Homo sapiens: one gene and its partner. The main gene of each other region encodes a partner of the protein of the gene in region 2 in a complex. Links are inferred from orthologs where the notes say so. Each region holds a gene or a part of one and is shown on either strand. Other genes may lie near its edges. The genes, in order: ARL6 and BBS7.

The links.
Region 1: the proteins of BBS7 (region 2) and ARL6 are in contact, whole or in part, in a cryo-EM structure (PDB 6VBV), measured with the Bos taurus proteins. The link is inferred for Homo sapiens from one-to-one orthologs. Residues at the interface, in NP_001178275.2 of Bos taurus: Leu3, Ile249, Val250, Gly251, Asp300, Gly301, Tyr302, Asp303, Thr319, Glu320, Pro321, His323, Lys324, Glu325, Ser326, Gly327, Pro328; in NP_001069250.1 of Bos taurus: Met132, Asp133, Arg135, Thr139, Ser140, Val141, Ser144, Trp157, His158, Ile159, Cys160, Ala161, Asp163, Lys166.

What each region holds. Positions count from the first base shown.
Region 1 is NC_000003.12:97,765,266-97,777,038, reverse strand, and holds part of ARL6 (ADP-ribosylation factor-like protein 6), read right to left. Parts: intron 11,049-11,773; exon of another isoform or gene 10,950-11,048; intron 10,408-10,949; exon of another isoform or gene 10,349-10,407; intron 8,959-10,348; 5' UTR 8,932-8,958; coding exon 8,809-8,931; intron 1-8,808. UniProt on the Homo sapiens protein: Involved in membrane protein trafficking at the base of the ciliary organelle. Mediates recruitment onto plasma membrane of the BBSome complex which would constitute a coat complex required for sorting of specific membrane proteins to the primary cilia.
Region 2 is NC_000004.12:121,864,292-121,876,365, reverse strand, and holds the start of BBS7 (BBSome complex member BBS7), read left to right. Parts: upstream 1-5,891; 5' UTR 5,892-6,052; coding exon 6,053-6,088; intron 6,089-8,319; coding exon 8,320-8,385; intron 8,386-12,074.

The DNA of each region.
Region 1 (11,773 bases), on a different chromosome or scaffold from region 2:
TTAATAAGCCAGTTATCAAATGAATATGCAAGTTATCAACTGAACAATTTTAGATTGTTTTAAATTTTAAGAATAAGGGTGGCCAGGCACGGAGGCTCACGCCTGTAATCCCAGCACTTTGGGAGGGCAAGGCGGGTAGGTCACCTCAAGTTATGAGTTCAAGACCAGCCAGGCCAACATGGTGAAACCTCGTCTCTACTAAAAATACAAAAAAAGTAGTGGGGTGTGGTGGCGCGTGCCTGTAATCCCAGCTACTCAGGAGACTGAGGTAGCAGAATCACTTGAACCCGGGAAATGGAGGTTGCAATGAGCCAAGATTGTGCCACTGCACTCCAGCCTGGGTGACAGAGCCAGACCCTGTCTCAAAAAAAAAAAATAAATAAATAAACAAAAAGAATAAGGGTAACATCACCAAAATGAAGTAGAAGCAAGAAGCAATTAGGCTTCACTATCTCCCACAGAAAACCAAAAACAAATATCCAGTACTAAGATTAGCACAAGTAATATCCCTTAAGAAAGGAAGAAAGGAAAAGAGGAGCTACAAAACAAGAGAAAAATTAACTAAATGGCAATAGTAAGTCCTTACCTATCAGTAATAGTATTAAATGTAAATGAACTACATTCTTCAATTAGAAGACACAGAGTGGCTGAATGGATTAAAAAAAAATAAGACCCAACTATGTGCTTTCCACAAAAAACTCATTTCATCTATGAAGATACACACAGGCTGAAAACAAAACGGATAAAGACATTCCATGTAAATGAAAACCAACAAACAGCAAGATTAACTATACTCATATCAGATAAAACAGATTACAAGTCAAAGACTATAAAAAGAGACAAAGTAAATCACTATATGAGGAAAAAGGAGTAAATTCAGAATGAGAATATAACAATTGTAAATATATGTGCCTTCAACATGGGAACACCGTATATATTAACCAAACATTAATAGAGCTAAAGGGTGAGAAAGACTGCAATACAATAACAGCAGAGGACTTCAACACCCCATTCTCAGTAATAGACAGATCATTCAGACAGAAAAATCAACAACAAAAGAAATCCAAGTTAAACTGAACTCTAGACCAAATGGACCTAATAAACATTTATGGAACATTCCATCCAACAGCTGCAGAATATACATTATCTTCATCATCAAATGGAACATTCTCTAAAATAGATCATGTTAGGCAACAAAACAAATCTCAACAAATTTTAAAAGGTAGAAATCATATCAAGTATCTTTTCTAACCACAATGGAATAAAACTAGAAATCAATAATGAGAGGAACTTTGGAAACTATAAAAACACATGGAAATTAACATGCTTCCTAATATTCAATGGGTGAATGAAGAAATTAAGAAGGAAATTCAAAAGTTCTTTGTGATGGTTAATACTAAGTGTCAATTTGATTGGATTGAAGGATGCAAAGTATTGATCCTGGGTGTGTCTGTGAGGGTGCTGCTAAAGGAGATTAACATTTGAGTCAGTGTGCTGGGAACAATCACCTTAATCTGGGTGGGAACAATCTAATCAGCTGCCAGTGTGGCCAGAATATATAAAGCAGGCAAAAAAAAAACCTGAAAAGGCTAGGCTGGCTTAGCCTCCCAGCCTACATCTTTCTACCGTGCTGGATGCTTCCTGCCCTTGAACATCAGACTTCAAGTTCTTCAGTTTTGGGACTCGGACCGGTTTCCTTGCTCCTCAGCATGCAGATGGTATATTGTGGGACTCTGTGATCACGTGAGTTAATACTACTTAATAAACTCCCCTTTATATGTATATCTATCTATCCTATTAGTTCTGTCCTTCTAGAGGACCCTGACTAATATAGATTTTGGTACCAGGAGTGGTTCTAGAGGAACAGAATATTAAGGATGGAGTTCTTTCATTGGTTTTGGGGTTTCTGGAGTTGGCTGCTTAATATGATTAGACCCCAAAATGCTAAGGACTCTACTTTTAATAGTATGGAGAACACTGATAGTCCTTGGCACGAACTGTTTAGAGAGTTATGCAAAATAAATGCATTTGACACTCTTGATTCACTGCTCGTGAGCGGTAAGTAGTTTAGTGACTCTATACATAATACCTTTGACTATATGTGGAGAACCAAGGAACATAATGAAGTTGGTTGGTTGCTCTTAAGTTCACTGGACAAAGTAATGAAAGAAAATTATGAACTCAGGGATTGTAACTCCCAGCTTCAGAAGCACATACTGAGCCTCAAAGCTGCTAAGACTGCCCTGAGTGAGAGTCTTATCTCCTGTAGAGAAAGAGCTGAAATTGTGGAAAAACAGGCACAAGCTCTTATATCAGTTGCTGACCTGCAATGAAAGGTGCATGCACAGCCTCGCCAGGTACCTACTGTTGAAGTGAGGGCATTGATTGGAAAAGAATGGGACTCTGCAACTTGGAATGGGGATGTGTGGGAGGACCCTGATGAAGCTGGGGACACCAAGCTTGTAAACTCTGATGAACCTTGTTTTGCCAGAAGAAACAGCTTCCCCATTCCCAGTAGTGGCAACATCCCCTCCCCCACCCATGCTGCCATCAGCCTTTCCACCTTTGTCTGAGGAGATAAACCCTGCGCTGCCTGGGACAACAGTGATGGCCTCCCCTGAGGCAGTTGCCAGGCAAGATAATGTTGATTCTCCTCAAGAGTCACCCTCAATACCCCCGCCTGCTTCTAGAATCCCGGGGGGATTCTAAACTAAAATCCCGGAATAACTAAACTATAACTAAAATCCTGGGGGGGCCCCAGAGGTAAGGTTGAGAGTGTGATCCATGAGGTGGTGCACTACACTCAAAAAGAACTGCTCGAGTTTTCTAATTTATATAAACAGTAATCTGGAGAACAGGCTCCTCCTACCTTTAAGTCAACAAGCTAAGAAGGGAGTTAGTGTTGGCTGGGGTGACTATCCGGGACTATCAAGATGAAATCAGACTATCACTCCACAACGGAGGTAAGGAAGAGTATGTATGGAATATAGGAGATCCATTAGGGCATCTCTTTGTATTACCATGCCCTGTGATTAAGGTCAATGGGAAACTACAACAGCCCAATCTGGCAGGACTACATATGGACCAGACCCTCCAGGAATGAAGGTTTGGGTCACTCCACCAGGAAAAACAAACAAACAAACAAACAAAAGCAGCACCTGCTGAGGTGCCTGCTGAAGGCAAAGGGAATACAGAATAGGTAGTAGAAGAAGGTAGTCATCAATACCAGCTGTGACCACATGACCAGTTACAGAAACAAAGACTGTAACTGCCATGAGTATTTCCTCCTTTTGTTAAAAACATGTTTGTGTACATATAAACTTGTACTATGAAAATATATTCATTTTATTTTCTTTTTCCTTTATCATGTGACATAAGATTTATTAACTTCATTTCAGCATTTAAATACTGTTGACTTTATGTAATAGCATTTGGGTTGGGGATTGGTATATTTCCGGTTGTACGAAGGATAGTTGTATTATGTTAGGCATAATTATGACCTTATTATTGTCCTTATTTGAACATTATGTATGATCTCAGGAGATGTGTATTGACAAGGGGTGGACTTGTGATGGTTAATACTGAGTGTCAACTTGATTGGATTGAGTGATGCAAAGTATTGATCCTGGGTGTGTCTGTGAGGGTGCTGCCAAAGGAGATTAATATTTGAGTCAGTGGGCTGGGAAAGACAGACCACCCTTAATCTGGCTGAGTACCATCTAATCAGCTGCCAGTGCGCCCAGAATATATAAAGCAGGCAGAAAAATGTGAAAAGGTAAACTGGCTTAGCCTCCCAGCCTACGTCTTTCTCCCATGCTGGATGCTTCCTGTCCTTGAACATCGGACTCCAAGTTCTTCAGTTTTGTGACTCAGACTGGCTTCCTTGCTCCTCAGCCTGCAGACAGACTATTGTGGAGCCTTGTGACTGTGTGAGTTAATACCACTTAAGAAACTCCCCTTTATAGATATCTATCCTATTAGTTCTGTCCCTCTAGAGAACCCTGACTAATACATTCTTAAATGAAAAGGGAAATACAACATACCAAAATCTATGGATACTGCAAAACCAGTACTAACCAAGAAGTTTATAGCAATAAACACATACATCAAAAAAGTAGCAGCCAGGCGTGGTGGCTCACACCTGTAATTCCAGCACTTTGGGAGGCCGAGGTGGGCAGATCACCAGAGGTCGGAGTTTGAGACCAGCCTGACCAACATGGAGAAACCCCATCTCTACTAAAAATACAAAATTAGCAGGGCATGGTGGTGCATGCCTATAATCCCAGCTACTTGGGAGGCTGAGGCAGGAGAATCGCTTGAACCCGGGAGGCAGAGGTTGTAGTGAGCCGAGATCACACCATTGCACTCCAGCCTGGGCGACAAGTGCAAAAATCCATCTCAAAAAAAAAAAAAAAAAAAGTAACAAGCCTTCAAATAACCCAATGATGCACCTCGAACAACCAGAAAAGGAAGAACAAATCTAAACCAAAATTAATAGAAGGAAATAAATAAAGATCATAACAAAAATAAATGAAAGTGAGACTAAAAACATACAAAAGATCAAAGAATCAAAAAGTTGGCTTTTTGAAATTATAAAATTGAGAAGACATTAGATAAACTAGGAAAAAAAAAGAGGATCCAAATAAATGAAATTAGAACTTAAGAATGAGAAATAACAACTGATACCACAGAAATACAAGGGATTATTAGAGATTATTATGAAAAACTACATGCCAACAAATTGGATAACATAGAAGTGGATAAATTGCCGGACACATTCAACCTACTGAGATTGAACTATGGAAAAATAAAATACCTGAACAGGCCAATAATGAGTAAGGAGATCAAAGCACTAATATAAAGTCTCCCATTAAAGAAAATATTAGGACCTGATGGCTTCACTATGGAATTCTACCAAACATTTAAAAAACAAATACTAATTCAACTCAAACGATCCCAAAAAGTAAAGAGAAGGAAACACTTCCAAACTCATTTTACAAAACTGGCATTAATCTGACACCGAAACTAGTCAGGAATACAATGATAAAACTACAGGCCAATATCCCTCATGAACATAGATGCAAAAATCTTCAACAAAATGCTAGCAAAACTGAATCTAACAACCTATTAAAAAGTTCATTCACCATGATCAGTAGGATTCATCCCAGGGATGCAAGGATGGTTCAACATACACAAATCAATATATGAGCCCATAAGATTAATAGTATCAAGGACAAAACCATATGATCATTTAAATAGACGTTGAAAAAACTTTTGATAAAATTCAACATCTCTTTATGACAAAAACTCTCAACAAATTGGATTAAAAGAACCATACCTCAAACAATAAAGGCTAAATAAATGACAAAACCATGGCTAATATACTAATATTATACTGGTGGAGCTAATATACTGAATGGAGAAAAACTAAAAGCCTTTCCTCTAAACCTGGATCAAGACAAGGATGTTCATTTTCACCACTTTTACTCAAAAACAATACTAGAAGTTCCAGCCAGAGCAATTAGGCAAGAAAAATGAAGGTCATCAGTATTGGAAAGAAATAACTCAAATTATCCTTGTTTGCAGATGACATGTTCTTATATTTAGAAAAACCTGAAGACTCTACCAAAAATACTGTTAGAACTGATAAAGAGATTCAGTTAAGTTTCAGGATACAAAAGTCCACATATAAAAATCAGTAGCATTTATATACACCAAGAACAAACAATCTGAAAATGAAATCAAGAAAGTAATCCCATATATAATAGCTATAAAAAATATAAAATACTTAAGAATAAATCCAACCAAAGATCTCTACAATTAAAACTATAAAATATTGATAAAAGAAATTGAAGAGGACACAAAAACATGAAAAGCTATTCTATCTATGCTCATGGATTAAAAGAATTATCACAGTTAAAATATCTATACCACCCGAAGAGATTAACAGAGTCAATGCAATCCCTATCAAAATACCAATAACATTCACAGAAATATAAAAAGAATCCTAAAATTTATATGAAACCATAAAAGACCCCAAATAGCCAAAATAATCCTGAACAAAAAGTACAAAGTTGGAGGTACCACACTATCTGACTTCAAACTATACTACAAAGCCATGATAACCAAAACAGCATAGTTTTGGCATAAACACACACACACAGACCAACAGAAGAGAACAGAGAAGCCAGAAATAAATCCATGTATTTACATCCAACTCATTTTCCAAAAAGACATCCAAGAACATACATTGGGAAAAGGATAGTCTTATGATGCTGGAACACTGGATAAACACATGTAGAAGACTGAAACTAGACCCCTATCTCCCACCATATACAAAAGTCAACTAAAAATGGATTAAAGACTTAAATCTAAGACCCAAAACTATCAAAGTACTAGGAGAAAACACAGGGAAAATGCTTCAGGACACTGATTTGGGCAGTAAGACCTCAGAAGCACATGTAACAAAAGCAAAAATAGACAAATTGGACTATATCAAGCTACAAAGCTTCTACACAGCAAAGGAAACAATCAACAAAGTGAAGAGATAATCTACAGAATTACAGAAAATATTTACATAATATCCACTCAACAAAGGATTAATAACCAGAATACAGAAGGAACTCAATTCAGTAGCAAGGAAAAACAAAACACAAAAAATCTGACTAAAAAAATGGGTAAAAGATCTGAATAGACATTTCTCAAAAGAATATAGACAAATGGCCAACAGGCATATGAAAAAAATGCTCATCATTATTCATCAGGAAAATATATATCAAACTACAATGAGATATTATTTCACCCCAGTTAAAATTGCCTTTATCAAAAAAGGCAAAAAAATAATGAATGCTGGTGAAGATGTAGAAAAGGGGGAACTCTCGTAGATTGTTGGTGGGAATGCAAATTAGTGTAGCCACTATGGAAAACAGTATAGTGTTTCCGCATGAAACTAAAAATAGAACTCCCATAAGATCCAGCAATCCCACTGTGGGAATATATCCAAAAAAATGGAAATCAATGTATCAAAGAGATACCTGCACTCCCAAGTTTATAGCACCACTATTCACAATAGCCAAGATATGGAATACACTTTTGTCCATCAATGGATGTATGGATAATGAAAATTTGGTACATATACACAATGAAATATTATTCAGCCATAAAAAAGACTGAAATCCTGTCATTTGCAGCAATATGGAGAGAACTGAAGGTCATTAAGTTAAGTGAAATAAGCCAGGTCCAGAAAGACAAGTATCACATGTTCTCACTTGTTTGTGGGATCTGAAAAAGTAGATCTCATAGAGACATAGAGTAGGTGGTTACCAGAGGCTGGGAAGGGTAGGGCGGAGAGAGGGGTGGAGAGAGGTTCATTAATAGGTATAAAAATACAGTTAGATAAAGGAATAAGACTTAGTGTTTGATAATTCAGTAGAGTGACTATAGTCAACAATAATTTACTGGATATTTCAAAATAGCCAGAAAAGAAGAATTAGAATGTTCTGAACATACAAAAAAGATAAATTTTTGAGGTGATGGATATCCCAGTGACTCTGATTTATTATGCATTGTATGCATGTATCAAACTATCACATGTAACCCCTAAATTTGTATCAATAAAAAATGATATAAAAACTGGATGATGTGACAATAAAGATTGGTAGTGGAATAAAGATTGAAATTTTTGAAAAAGGTATATAGAGTCTATCTCTAAAAAAATGACAGCTAAGACTAGATTCTTGAAAAAAGCGATCAGATTAAAATGTCCTCCCTCTCTCCCTATTCTAAAATGCCAGCAACCTCAGTACATTAACAATAAATAAACATAAAGATAGCTTAATATGAAAAACTAGTTTGTGTCCAGGAAAGAACTACTTACCTAGAAACTGATTTTATCCACAAAAATGAGACAATTTTACTATAAAATGAGATGGGCACTATTTTTTTGCAAGGCATTTCCTATCACAGCATTGTACATTTCTGTACTTATTTTATTTAATTCCTTAAAAATAATGTTCTAGTAGTGGATGTAAGCTTACAAGAGACTCTTCTTGAGCTTGGTGTAGGAAGGGAGCAAGTGTTGTATCTACATCTATAACTGAGTGACAGAGGTTTGAAACCCCTCAAGAAGTCCCATTTCAAGTGGCTCCTTGGCTGTTACCATTACCATAAAAAAAAGAAAAAAAAGCAAAGCCAATCACTTTTCTCTGGACCTGGAGGTCAGTTTTTCTGATAAGGCAGGAGAGTTGTCCAAACATAAAGGCTCAGGAATTGGTGCCAGAAATTAGGAAAGCCCTATTAGATAGGCTTTCTTTATATGCAGCAGACTTTAACTTTAACTTATACATCACATGTTAAATGTGCTAGCTTTATATATTTTTCAGTTATTACAATATGTCCATACACTTGTTGCTTAAAATCATCTTGCTTACTATTACTAATATGCATACTATACTTTCAAAAATTGTCTAATTATCCATAGAACCTATAAAAATGTTTCACCTTTCTCTGTTTTGCTCCTCCTGTAAGGAGGAAACTAAAAAGAAGGCAATGACATTTAAAGTAAACTCAGTAAATCTGTGAAGAACTTTTGAAAGAAAAGACATTTGAAAATAATATTCCAGTTTAATAATTAAAATTTACTGTGTAAAATATACTGCAAATTATGGCTGAGGATACTTAAAGGTACTGAAAGGTTAACAGAATATCTTAATGTGATTATATGCGGTTTTAACGTCATATAACATAATTCTGCACATTAATTTTCTTTAGTAGCAGAAAATACATAAAGCATCTAACAAAGATACTTACATTTGAAGGTTTAAGTTTGTTAATGATCGTCGTTTTGCCACTATTATCTAGCCCAAGGCACAAAACATGAACCTCCTTCTTCTTCAGGCCAAGCAAGACTGAAAGTCTGTCTAGCAATCCCATAATGTGATTCAAATATTTACAAACCAGCTGCAATTAAGAAAAAATAAAATATTACCCAAAGGCACCTTAAGTTATGGAAAATATTGGTAGGTGTATTAAAAAAAGGTAATAATTTAAATACACATAATAATAGTGTGAAAACTATGTCAATGTAGCTTTGCACTTAGTAAACACAGTGTAAGCTGATTACCAGAAAGGAGCCTTAACTGACACGCAGATTTGCAGCTTATAACAGGTGGCAACACAGAACAATGCCTTGGAAATAACAACATTTCTCTCTGTAATTTATCATATTTAAGAATAAAACATGGTCAGCCTCAGTATCATTTGGAGTCTGCGAATTGTGATACTTGAAAATATGGAAGAATTAGGCCGTAGCCTTTCCAGAAAATCTGAAACAATGAATGGGCAATGGGGTTCATGTAGAAGGCAGAAAGTAGAAGGCAGATCTGAAAAGCAGACAGATTTTGAGATTTTGGTGATATCATTTAAGCCACTGTTAAATCTTTATCAGAAGCCAGCCCCATTGTTATATTTTGTAATAATATGAAGTTACAATAAATTCACTTTTTTTTTGCTTGCTTGGTTATTTCCAGTTTAAGTAGGGTTTTCTCTCAGTAGAAGCAAAGAATCCTGAAATACTTATCCTTATTTCCCCTTATCCTATACATACATCTTTGTAAGTCACCACAAATCCCTTTGTGAAGAAGGTTATGCATAAATACATACACACATTCAATTTATTGAACCTTACTAAATATCTGTTTTTTAACTGTAACTTATCTGAAACATCCTCCTAAGTGCTATTTTAAAAGGACTTTATCGTATTAGTATAGAATAAGGAAGTAAATACTGATTGTAGATTTTAATTTAGTTTTTTAAGTATCTTAAAAATTTCTTTGTTAACTTGTCCCTAAAGTGTTCATTTCTCTTGTTCAATTGTATTGATTCTTTGAAAAAAAAATTCTTTCTAATGCAAACTTAAAAAAAAACTATCAGCAATCCAAAAATAGAAGTATTTGGAAGTCAAATAAAACTGCTGTGTACATAAAACTTGCTATGTGGTAACTTTATGGCTGTTTATATTCATCTAAGGTACTGTTAAATTTACACTTCAGGTCTCCAAACTAAACTTTTCAAAGGAGCTCACTTTGGGTCCATTGCTCCCCAAACCATTACTTTGTGGTAGAAGGACAGGGAGATAGATCCCTTTTTCCAGCCCCCAACTGCTGCAGGAACTGCTACAATATATCTATGTACCAAATATTTCTCATTACTCACCAACATTAGTTCTCTAATGTTTTTATTCTCATTAAATTGACTTATTCTCATCTCCATCTAAGGTTGCATAAGCAACCTGTCATATTACAGTTTCTTCAATACTTTTTATTCCATACAATTTCAGGCAAGGCCATACCTTGAAGGATGTGAGGCTGCAGCAACTTTATCAATAACAGGCTTCCAAGACAACTGTATCTAAAAGGAGGTTGCATAGTCAACATTTTGCTTAGGCCTTTTGGGATATGATTATGGGTAGAAATTTCAAAACTAAATTTCAGTGATGTGCAGAGAAGAGATGGAACAGTGCCATGCCAAAAGGTGAGGCCTATTACAGAACCACGTTTGTCTTTCCCCAAGGATGAGTTTGACCTCAGGTACTTCCATTTGTGCCACTTCAATCTGCTTTTCTCCTTGTATCAGAGATTCAAATCTTATTCAGTCCATTTCTTTAAATTACAGCTTAAGGACCAGCATTTGTAAAATCTATTTTAAATTAACCTTCTGATGTCATGAAGCAATTCACACATACCATTTGATTTCAAAGTAAATTTGCTATTACTCACTTTATTTACTGCATAAACATATTGATATAAATGCTTATATCTTGTTCTCCATTTCATAATTTAGAACTTATGTTTTAAAAACGACAACTTCTCACATTTTCCCCCCTTTAAGCATCTACTATAAAGCACTGAGTGTTTAAAGCCTGATGCTTGAATATTCGTTTTTCACAGTACCTTGTATTGTGACTTTCCATCACTTTTCCATGGATTATCACTTGATACTTGTTAATGAAATATTTTGGGACACACAATTTAGAAGAGCAGGCAGTTTTTCTAAAAGAGGTAATCACATTTATTGAAATTGCTTTATAAACAACTATCATAGAGCCTTTAAACTTCTACGTTTCAAGTAGTTATAATTTTCCTTCCATAAGTTGACTTTCTGCATGCATAAATAAAAGATAATTGAAGCCAGTCAATATTTGTTAATCGTGTCTTAAGTGTGCAGCGAGAGACACAACTGTTTTCTGCAGCTTCCTACTCTGATAGCCATGATTCTCAACCCTGGCTGCACTCTGAAATCAATTGCTGAATCCGAATTTTTGAAAATAAGATCAGGGCATCTGTAGTTTTAAAAGCTACCCAGTGTTTCTGATGTGAAGTTACTATTGAGAACTACTGGCTTTCAGAATAAAGCCAGTAGTTTCAAACTTCCAAGCACAGCTTTTAAGGTTGTCCACAATCTGGCTCCAATCTTCCTTTCTTGTTTCTTATCTTACTGTAACCCTCTCTTTGCACACCAGCCAAATTCTCTTGGTTATTGTCTGACAGACTGTTTCCTAAAGGATTACATATTGCCAGAGAAGTCCAGAAGAATTAGGATGTTATCCACAGTTAACAGCTTAGAGGGTAAGCTGCAGAGACAGAGTGGTAGCCCAGAGAAAACACCACGAATGATACTTAGTAAACTCTGTAAAGTGTTTGTTGATTGAAATGTTGCCTACTTTTATTACCCCAAATAAACATTCTTATTCGGCTTTCAGTTTTTTATGATATAA
Region 2 (12,074 bases):
AGGTTAATGTCATCATCCAAGGTGGTAATCTTTCTTTCCATGTCTTTTTAAATTTTTTAAATAAAGTTTTTAAAATACATTTTTAGAGGCGGGTCTCACTATGTTGTCCAGGCTAGTCTTTAACTTTTGGCCTCAAGCGATCCTCCTGCCTCAGCCTCCCAAAATCAGGCTGGGCACAGTGGTGCACACCTGTAATCGCAGCACTTTGGGACGTTGAAGCAGGTCGATGGCTTCAGTTCAGGAGTTCGAGACCAGCAGGGCAACATGGTGAAACTGTCTCTACAAAAAATACAAAAAAAATTAGCCGGGCATGGTGGCATGTGTCTGTGGTTCCAGTTACTCAGGAGGCTGGGGTGAGAGGATAACTTGAGCCCAGGAAGTTGAGGCTGCAGTGAGCTGGTTCACGCCACTGCACTCCAGCCTGGGTGACAAAGTGAACCACCCCCCACAAAAAAAAAAAAAAAAAAAAAAAAAAATCTAAAATGGGTATTTATAACTTTGTTCAGTTTAAAAAAGAGTTTGAGAATTTCTAAATTTATACCATGTGTTAGGGGAAACTAATGTTTTTACTCATGACTCAGTCACTCAGCTGACCACCACTAGCGTGTTGATGGTTTTAACTTTAATGCAGTTTAAATTGCTTTTATTTTTAGCCATAAGTTGTTTAACTTATACTCATAATGGTTGCTTTAGCACCATAACATAAGGTTATAAATTACTGAGGTGCATGGTAATTCTGCAAATTTGTCTCTAAAGTGGTCTTTGTCACATCTGAGAGGCAGCCATCTTCTGTTGAGTTTTATAAAGACCACCAAGATGTCTCTGATACCCTAAAACATCTTTAAAAAGAGGACACACAGTGGTAATTTAACTTGACATTTTCTTTATTGTGAATAAAAATTCCTTACCCTGCTAATTAATTATTTGAGGAATACTTAAAATTAGTAGGTTGAAATCTTTACTAATCATTTAGAAACAAAACATAGTATGTACTTTAAAAATAATAAATTGCATTTTTAGATGCAAAATCAAAGAATTCCAAATATCATATTATGCAAACTTTTTGTATTGTTTTGATGCTATATCATAGCCTCATTTCACTGTTTTAAAATAAATTTGAGCTTCAAAATAAACTTTTACTTTCCTTCTACACAATTAATTGAACAGTGGACATCACTTGCTAAATGGAAAGTAAGCACTGCCAGCATTGTCTGTCTTTGGTGTTTTTTTTTTTACCTATTTATTAGAACCATAGTATTTCTTCATTATTAATTTGTATGAACTATTTTTTAAGATATTAACTCTTTTCTCCTATATTTTTGTTTTCATTTAAACATTGTTGTGACATATTGAAATGTTTATCTTTACTTTTCATTTTTTTTAAGTTAGTTTTTTGTTTGTTTTTTAGAGATGGGGCCTTGCTATTTTGCCCAGGCTGGATTGTTGGGCTCAAGCAATCTTGAGCCTCAGCCTTCAAATAGCTGAGACTACAGGCATGTAACACCATATCTGCTTTTTTCCTTTGTGGTTTCTTCTATTCCTTTTGAGATCAGTTTCCTTCTGTTATGGGCTGAATTGTGTCCCCTCAAAACTCATGTTAAAGTCCTCGCCTTCAGTATCTCAGACTATAACTATAGTTGGAGATAGGGTCTTTAAAGAGGTAATTAATTTAAAATGAGATAATATGACTGGTGTGCTTATAAAAAGACAAGATGAGACACAGACAGACATAGAGGGAGGACCACGTGAAGACACGGAGAAGATGACGATCTATAAGCCAAGAAGAGAGGCCTCTGAAGATCGGTTTTATTCCCTGCTGACACCTTGATCTATGACTTCTAGACTCCAAGACTGTGAGAAAATAAATTTCTGTTGTTGAAAAGCCTCCCAGTGTGTACTACTTTGCTATGGCAGCCCTAGCAAACTAATACTATATCCTCCAACCTCCAAAATTCTGTAAAATGCTATACAATTCTATTTTCTTCTGTCTTTTCTATGGCTTTATTTTTCAGTTGACTTCTAAAATTTATTTGTATTTTTTTCTTGAATCTAAATTGATATATATTTCCCCCAAATTGCTGAACAGCTAACCCATCTACATGTATTGTCTATTTTAATGTGGGATTATTTTAGCCTCAGAGATATAATTGTCTGGAACACAGGGAAAACTTTTTCAGATATTGCTGCAGTAAATAACTTCTCTTCTTAAGAAGCACCTCTTCTCAGGGATTTAATTCTTTTTGTTTCACAATTATTTGTGAACTCTTTCCTGGAAAACCACAGTGGCTCATGTCTGTAATCCCAGAACTTTGGGAGGCTGAGGTGGGCGGACCACTCGAGCCCAGGAGTTCAATACCAGCCTGGGCAACATGGCAAAACTCCATCTCTACAAAAAAAAAAAAAAAGAAAGAAAGAAAAAGAAAAACCACAAGAATCAGGAAAGTAGCTGTATCTGAACTTATCTGTATTTCCCCAGGCAGAGCTCTATGCACATTAAGGAAGGACCGATGAAAGTGAGTCAAAGAATGTCAGCTCTTAAATCCTGGGTCACTATGGGTCAGTAGTAGTCTGTGGGGCCCCGAGGGGCAGGGGTGGTTCCTGAGGCCTTTTCACAGCTGTCTGCAATTTTGAAACTATTTTCATAACACTAAGTTGTGATTTGCCATTTCACTCTGCTGACATTTGCACTGATGGTACCGAAACAATGGTGGTTAATACTGCTAGTGCTTAAGCATAAATCAAAATAGTGGCTCCAAACTGTACTAGTAGACACCATATTCTATATAACATGCACTGATAGGAAACAAAAACCATTTCATATAAAAATGTTCTTAACGAAGCAGCAACATTGTTAATATTATCTTTTTTTCTTTTTTCTTTCTTCTGATTCAGCCCTCATTTATTACATCTTAACTCTTGAATATGTCTTTTTAAATGTTCTATGTGAGGACATAAGAAGTATGTATAAAATCCTTCTACTGAATACTGAAATACATTAGTTGTCTCAAGGAAAAGCACTTGTGGGATTGAGCTGCTAGCTGAACTTCCTGCTTTTTTCATGGGACACTTTTTATTTGAAGGAATTACTCACAAATTATGATTATTCAGACTTAGATATCTGGCATTTACTTTCTTGTGAATTCAAGAAGGGAACCTATCAGTTCAAGGAAAACAATCGACATTTCTTGCCAATGTGTAAATTTCAAACTTTCAAGCACAAATTTGAATTTTGGAAAATATGTATTCACCATCTAAGTTTGACAGATCTCCCATACTCGGGACTTTACTGATGAGATCCATGGTGATACTAACAGATGGAATTTTTTGATGTTGTGTAACAAAGTCACATTTCACATTGCAACTAACCTTTCAAAAAACTACTACTTGTTGAGTTTGGACCAAATTTTCTTCATATACATGAACAAAAACAACATATAACAATAGATTGAATGCAGTAGCAGATTTGAAGCTCCTCCTGTCTACTATTAAAATGGACAGAAAATAGATTTGCGCACAGTACCAGTTATTTTATTTTTTTATTTTGGAAAATATTTTTTTCATTAAGATATTTGTCATAGGTTTTTAAAAAACACTAATTGTTTTCAGTTCTAATGTCTAATATGGTAAAAATCAATAGGTAACTCATATAAACAAATGGTCTTTATACTTTCCAAAGCAATCTACAGATTCAGTGCAATTCCCATCAAAATATCATTACTACTTTTCACAGAACTAAAAAAAAAATTCTAAAATTCATATGGAACCAAAAGACAGCCTGAATAGCCAAAGCAATAATAAGCAAAAAGAACAAATCTGGAGGCATCACGTTACCACACTTCAAATTATACTGCAAGGCAAGTTACCAAAACAGCATGGTACAGGTAAAATAAATAAATAAATAAATAAAGACACATAGACCAATGGAACAGAATAGAGAACCCAGAAATAAAGCCAAGTACTTACAGTCAACTGATCTTCAACAAAGCATACAAAAACATAAATTGGGAAAAGGGCGCCCTATTCAATAAATGGTGCTGGGAAAACTAGTTTAGCCACAGGTAGAAGAATGAAACTGGATTCCCATCTCTCACCTTATACAAAAATCAACTCAAGATGAATCAAAGACTTAAATCTAAGACCTGAAACCACAAAAATTTTAGAAGATAACATTGGAAAAACTCTTTTGGACATTAGCCAAATGCAACAAAAACAAAAATAAATAAATGGGACCTAAATAAACTAAAAAGCTTCTGCACAGCAAAAGAAATAATCAGTAAACAGCCCATAGAGTAAAAGAAAATATTTTCAAACTGTGCATCTGATAAAGGACTTGTACCTAGAATCTACAAGGAACTCAAACAAATCAGCTAGAAAAAAACAATCCCATCAAAAAGTGGGCAAAGGACATTTTTCAAAAGAAGATATACAAATAGCCAACAAACATGAAAAGATGCTCAACATCACTAAATCACCAGGGAAATGCAAATTAAAACCACAGTGAGATACCACCTTACTCCTGCAATAATGGCCATGAGGCAGGCGGATCACGAGGTCAGGAGTTCGAGACCAGCCTGGCCAACATGGCAAAACCCTGTTTCTACTAAAAATACAAAAATCAGCCAGGCGTGGTGGCGGGCACCTGTAATCCCAGCTACTCGGGAGGCTGAGGCAGGAGAATCACTTGAACCCGGGAGCCGGAGGTTGCAGTGAGCCGAGATAGTGCCATTGCACTCCAGACTGGGGGACAAGAGCAAGACTCTGTCTCAAAAAAAAAAAAATAAACATAAAAAATAAAATTTAGAAAATATACGTTGGTGTCGATATGGTGAAAAGGGAACACTTTTGCACTGCTTGGGGGATGTAAATTAATACCACCACTATGGAAAACAGTATAAAGTTTCCTTAAATAAATAAATAAAGGTGGAGCTACCATTCAATCCAGCAATCCCACTACTGGGTATCTACCCAAAGGAAAAAGACACATATACACGCATGTTTATAGCAGCATAAGTCGCAATTGCAAAGATATGGGGCCAACCTAAGTGCCCATTGACTAACGAGTGGATAAAGAAAATGTAGTATATATACACCATTGAATACTACTCAGCCATAAAAAGGAACGAAATAATATCTTTTGGCAGCAACTTGGATGGAACTGGAGGCCATTATTCTAAGTGAAGTAACTTAGGAATAGAAAACCAAATACTGCATGTTCAGTTATGAGGATGCAAAGACATACAGAGCGATATAATGGATTCTGGGAACTCCAGGTAGGGAGGAGATTGGGAGCGGGGTGAGGGATAAAATACTACATATTGGGTACAGTGTACACTGGTGGGTGACGGGTACACTAAAATCTCGGAATTCGCCACTCAAGAGCTCATCCATGTAACCAAAACCCGCCTGTACACCCAAAACTATTGAAATAAAAAAAACATTAAAAATGAGAGAAAACCCACAAAAAGCAAATGGTCTTTGTGCTCCTCAACGGTTTTTAAGAGTCTTGTAAATAAGTCCTAAGGCCAAAAGTCTAAGAACCGCTGCTGTAAGCTAGCACCTATAACGGTGGAACCTAATTCTTTGTAGGACCCTTTCCAATGTCAGAGTGAAATCGGTCAGAATCTAGCAGGCTTATCTAGTTTTTTCTACAGCGATAAGGAAAGAAGTCCAGTATTAGCCCTGGGCCGCGGTGAGGGTGGAGCCAAGACTGCGTCTGGGGTCTCTGTGGAAACCGCCCTGTATGGGTCTCCCGGACCTCGCCTCTTTTGTTCCTCTCCGCCTCTGATTGGAACACGCTGTCAGTGGGCGGTGCTTCGGGAAAGGGGCGGGCCTTCATCTTCTTCCAGGAGCCCCTCGCAGCAGCGTACTGACGTCACGCAGGACGCCACTGCCCTGTCGCCCCGCCTGTGCAGCCCAGGACCTAGGCGCGGTAGCTGGGGCTGGCTTTTGAGGGGCGCGGGCAGCCTTCTGACTGGGTCGGAGGCCTGCGGGCCCGAAGCCTCTGTCCCTCCTGTTCTTGTCCGGCGCTGCTTAGCCCCTCCGCGTAGTCATCATGGATCTGATTTTAAACCGAATGGATTATCTGCAGGTAAACCCAAGGGATAGGGCGGGCGCCGCGCTGGGCAAGCCCAGCACCCGGAGAGGATTCCTTCCTTCCACTGACGAAAGTCTCGGTCGCCAGGAGCTGGTGCGGAGGCGAAGGAGCCGGGCTGGGTGCCGACCTCTCAGCACCCCGCCTTTGGGCAGCTCCCTTTCGTCTGTGACGGTCCGAGGGGACCGGGGAAAAGCGGCACAAGCCCCCACGGTACTGGCTTCTGCCGGGTCCTGAGGATGCTCTGAAAATGTGACACTGTCTCATCCCGGATTCCCCCCAGGGCCCTTCTCCTCCTCCCTAGCCGTGGCTGCCTGAGGGCCTCTAATCCTCAATCTCCATCTCTACCCGGACCCTTTTGCGGAGCACCAGGCACTTGTTTCTTACTGTGAGCTGTACCGCACCAGGCAGATCATGGTAAAAGCAATGAAAACCGGGCCGGGGGCAGTGGCTCACGCCTGTTATCCCAGCACTTTGGGAGGCCGAGGCGGGCGGATCACCTAAGGTCAGCAGTTCGAGACCAGCCTAGCCTACATGGTTAAACCTCTTCTCTACAAAAAGTACAAAAATTAGCCCGGTGTGGTGGCGGGCGCCTGTAATCCCAGGTACTCGGGAGGTTAAGGCAGGAGAATCGCTTGAACTCGGGAGGCGGAGGCTGCAGTGAGCTGACATCATGCCACTGCACTCCAGCTGGGGCGACAGAGCGAGACTGTCTCGAAAGGGGGAAAAAAAGCAATGACAACAGTTTAATGTGCATCTAGCTTATTCTAAGAATTTAGCATACCTACCAACATATTTAATCCTCATAAGAATTTGCAAAGTAGACAATATTATAAATGAGGATCTAAGGGGTTAGAGAAGGCAAGTAATTTGCTTAATAGCTAAAAATTAGGGAGTGGCTATTTGAATCAAAGTCTCGGACTCCAGAACTGGTGTATTTTTGTTACACTACACTGCCTTTCAGAATTTCTTTCAGACCTAAAATTCTCTCTACCCCAATTCCTCATCATATTTTTAGGCCACCTCATTTTAGTTAATGGTACAAATGTTTGCCCAGTCAATTTTCTAGGGGTTTATGCTATGTACTTCCATATCCAACTGGTCACCACATCTTACTGCTTTTAACTCCCAAATATCTCTTGAATCTGTCCCATATCTTCCATCTCTATTACCCTCATTTGGGTTCTCATCTTCTCTTGCTTGAATAATTGAAATAACCTCCAAATTGGGCTCCTGAACTCCAGCTTCATCTCCCTCCAAGCCATCCTTCACATCACTTGCTAGATTGATGTTTCAGAAATACAAATCTAAGCAGATGACTTTAATACAATTTTCTGGAATGCAGAATAAAGTCATTTATACTATATGAACGTTTTATCATGATGTGTTGTTTTCACCAATTCCTCTCCCATTGGTCCCATCCTCTTCTCCTAACTATACACCAGCAGTGACAGTTCCCTGCTGCTTTCATCCTCTGTATTTTTTTGTAAAATAATCTTCACCTGTTAGATTGGATGTTATGGCCATTATCATATTTGGTATTTTAGCATAAATCTTCTTTTTTTTTTTTTTTTTTTTTTTTTTTTTTTTGAAACAGGGTCTTGTTCTGTCACGCAGCCAGTCTGGAGTACAGTGGCATGATCATGACTCACCACAGCCTCAAATTCCTGGACTCAAGTTATCCTCCTGCCTCAGCCTTCCAAGTAGTTGGGCCTGCAGGCATGCACCACCATGCCTAGCTAATTTTTTATTTTTTGTAGAGACAGAGTCTCCCTGTGTTGCCTAGATGGTGTTGAACACCTGGGCTCAAGTGATCCTCCCACTTCAGCCTCCCAAAGTGCTGAGATTACAGGCATGAGCCACTGCATGTGGTCTTCCGTTGCATTTTTAATAACTATAATCTATTTTCAAAGTTCTTGAATCACTTTGCTGAACAACTGTATGCAGTTGGAAAAGAAGGCTTCTAGAGATATTTTTTAGTAAAGCATCTTGCCAGTCATCTTACACAACTATTTTTGGCTTGACAACTTTATAGGATAAATTTTACTATTTTGGTTGTTTCCTATATGTATTCTGACTAATATGACATATCTCATTAGAAAATAAATTAATTACTGATAATAGTTATATCACTAATTTCAGTTTAACAAAAAGGTTCACTATAACTTATTTTAATCTCTGTAATAACTTCAAATTAAATTCACTAGGCATCTGGTGTTTTTCTTTAGGTGGGAGTAACATCTCAGAAGACTATGAAGCTAATTCCTGCCTCAAGACACAGAGCTACACAAAAGGTACTGTATAGATTCTGATTTCTCCACTATTCCCTAGCAGTGACAGAGGAGAGGCTCCTATTTCCTTCTTTATTATTAAGTTATTCTCTTAAAAATGCTAATGTTAAAATGGAAATGAATTTTTTAATTTGAACAGAAACTGGAATACCAAGGGACATTTATAGACAATAATTTTCTTGGACATTAAAATTATTATATACCATTAGTAAACAGTGTAGGCAAACTTAAAAACCATACTCCATTTTTTCTGTGTGTCAGATGTGTATATGAAAAAAGAAATATAAAGCAGAATAAGGTATCAAGAAAATGTTCTCTTTAAACTTTCTCATATTTTAAAGTCATTAAATATTTTGATGTTAAACTGTACTTAACTAACAATATTGATTATGTTTAAAGAAATGTTGATCCTATGATTTCCACAAAACAATTATAGTTTCTTAGTAGACTAGCCAAATATTTTAATAGCTGCAAAAAAATACTTTATCCTGATATATAAACATTTTAGCAAGATGAATCAACAATTACACATAGTACTAGAAGTCCTAGCCAGAGCAATTATACAAGAAAAAGAAATAAAGTGCATCCAGATTGGAAAGGAGAGTCAAATTATCTCTGTTTGCCGATGACATGATCCTATATATAGAAAAACCTAAAGACTCTACCAAAAAACTCTTAGAACTGACAAATGAATTCAGTAAAGTTGCAGGATACAAAATTAATATACTGAAATTAGTAGTGTTTCTATACACAACAAACTAGCTGAAAAAGAAATCAAGAACACAATCCCAATTATAATAGATAAAAGATAAAATACTTAGGAATAAATTAACCAAGGAAATGAAAGACCTCTATAAAAAAAACTATAAAACACTGATGAAAGAAATTAAAGAGGATACCAACAAATGGAAAAACATCCCATGTTCATGGATTGGAAGAATTAATTTTGTTAAAATAACAATACAACCCAAAGCAATCTACAGATTCAATGCAATCTCTATCGAAATACCAATGTCATTTTTCACAGGAAGAGAAAAAAAATCTTAAAATTTGTATGGAACCACAAAGACCCCAAATAGCCAAAACAATCCTGAGTAAAAGGAACAAAGCTGGGGCATTACACTACCAGATCTCAAAATATACTACAAAGCTGTAGTAACCAAAACAGCATAATACTGGCATAAAAACACAGAGACACAGAGAACATAAAATGGAATAGAGAACTCAGAAATTAATCCACATATCTACAACCAACTGATTTTTGACAAAAGAGCCAAGAACAGCCCCTGGGGAAAGGACAGCCTCTTCAATAAATGGTGCTGGGAAAACTGAATATTCATATGCAGAAGGATGAAACCAAGACCCCCACCTCTCACCCCATATAAAAATGAACACAAAATGGATCAGAGACCTAAATGTGGCCAGGTGTGGTGGCTCACACTTGTAATCCCTGCAGTTTGGGAGGCCAAGGCGAGTGGATCACTTGAGGTCAGGAGTTCAAGACCAGCCTGGCCAACATGGTGAAACCCTATCTCTACTAGAAATACAAAAAAATTAGCTTGTCATTGTGGCAGGCACCTGTAATCCCAGCTACTCAGGAGAGGAAGACTCCATCTCAAAAAAACAAAACAAAACAAAACAAAAAACAAAAAAAGACCTAAATGTTAATGCTTTAGGACATTGGTCTGGGAAAATAGTTAATGAATAAGACCTCAAAAACACAAACAACAAAAGCAAAAATAAACAAGTGGGATCATATCAAACCAAAAAGCTTCTACACAGGAAAGGAAACAATCAACAAGAGTGAAAAGACAATCTATAGAATGGGATTTAAAATATTTGCAAACTACTCATCCAACAAGGAATTAATATCCAGAATATACAAGGAACTCAAACATACCAATAGCAAACAAACAAGCAATCTGATTAAAAAGTGGGCAAATGATCTAAACATTTCTCAGAAGAATACATACAAATGACCAAAAAAACATGAAAAAATACTTAACATCATTAATCATCAGGAAAATGGCAAATCAAACCACAATGAAGTATCATCTTACCCCAGTTAGAATGGCTGTTATCAAAAAGACAAGAAAACAAAAAACCAAAAAACAACAAATACTGGCAAGAATGTGGAGAAAGGAAACTCTTCTGTGCCATTGGTGGGATAGTACATCCACTATAGTGAACAGTATGTAGGATTTTTCAAAAACTACAAATAGGGCGACCATATGATTTAGCAACCCCACTGCTGGGAATTTACCCAAAGGAAAGGAAATCATCATATCAAAGAGACAACTGCAGCCTCATGTTTTATTGCAGCACTGTTCACAATAGCCAAGATATGGAATCAGCCTGGGTGTTTAACAACAGATGAATGTATAAAAAAAAGTGGTATATATACACAATGGAATACTATTCAGCAATAAAAAATAATGAAATCCTGGCCAGGCATGGTGACTCACGCCTGTAATCCCAGCACTTTGGGAGGCTGAGGCGGGCGGATCACCTGAGGTCAGCAGTTGGAGACCAGCCTGGCCAACATGGTGAAACCCCATCTGTACTAAAAATACAAAAATTAGCCAGGCACGATGGCAGGCATCTGTAATTCCAGCTACTTGGGGGGCTGACATGGGAGAATCGCTTGAACCCAGGAGGCAGAGGTTGCAGTGAGCTGAGATGGCACCTTTGCACTCCAGCCTGGCCGACAAGGGCAAAACTCTGTCTCAAAAAAAAAAAAAAGAGAGAGAAGAATGAAATCCTATCATTTGCAGTAACATGGATGGAACTGGAGGACATTATGTTTAGTGAAATAAGCCAGGAACAGAAAGTTGAACACCACATGTTCTCATTAATATGTGGAAGCTAAAAAAAGTTGGTCACGTTAAAGTAAAAAGTAGGACAGAGAATACTAGAGGCTGCAAAGGGTAGAGGGAAGGGAGGGATAGGGAGATATTTATTAAAGGATATAAAATTATAGCTAGATAGGAAGAAAAAACTCAAGTAGTCTATACCACTATAGGATGACTATAGTTAACAATATATAGTTTCAAATAGCTAAAAAGAAGGTATTGACTGATCCTAACCCAGAGAAATGATCAGTATTTTAGATGATGGATATGCTAATTATCCCAGTGTGATCAGTATATGTTATATGTATTGAAACATTGCTATGTACCCCACGAATATGTACAATTGTTGTCAATTAAAAAATAAATGAATAAAATAAAAAAGATAAACCAACAGATTTCTGATTGTCATTTACTGTATTAAGTCTACTAGATTAGCACTTCTCAAAATTTTTGGTCTCAGCACCCCTTTACACAATTAAATGATTGAGGATCCCAAAGAACATTTGTTTATGTAAGTTGTATGTATCAATACTTACTATATTAAAATGAAAACTAAGAAATGCTTAAACTATTTTATTTTAAAAAAATTATTACATGTTTACATAACATGTCTTTATGAAAAATAACTATTTTTCAAAACAAAGAATTTAGTGAGTATAGTGTCATTATGTTATACTTTTTGCAACTTGTTTAATGTCCTGGCATAAGCATACACACATAGATTTTCATATTTGTTTACTGCATTCAATCTGCTGTGCTATGTTGTTTTGGCTGAAATATTTGAAGAAAATCCAGCTTACACAGATACATAGCTGGAAATAAGGAGGGGTATTTAAATAG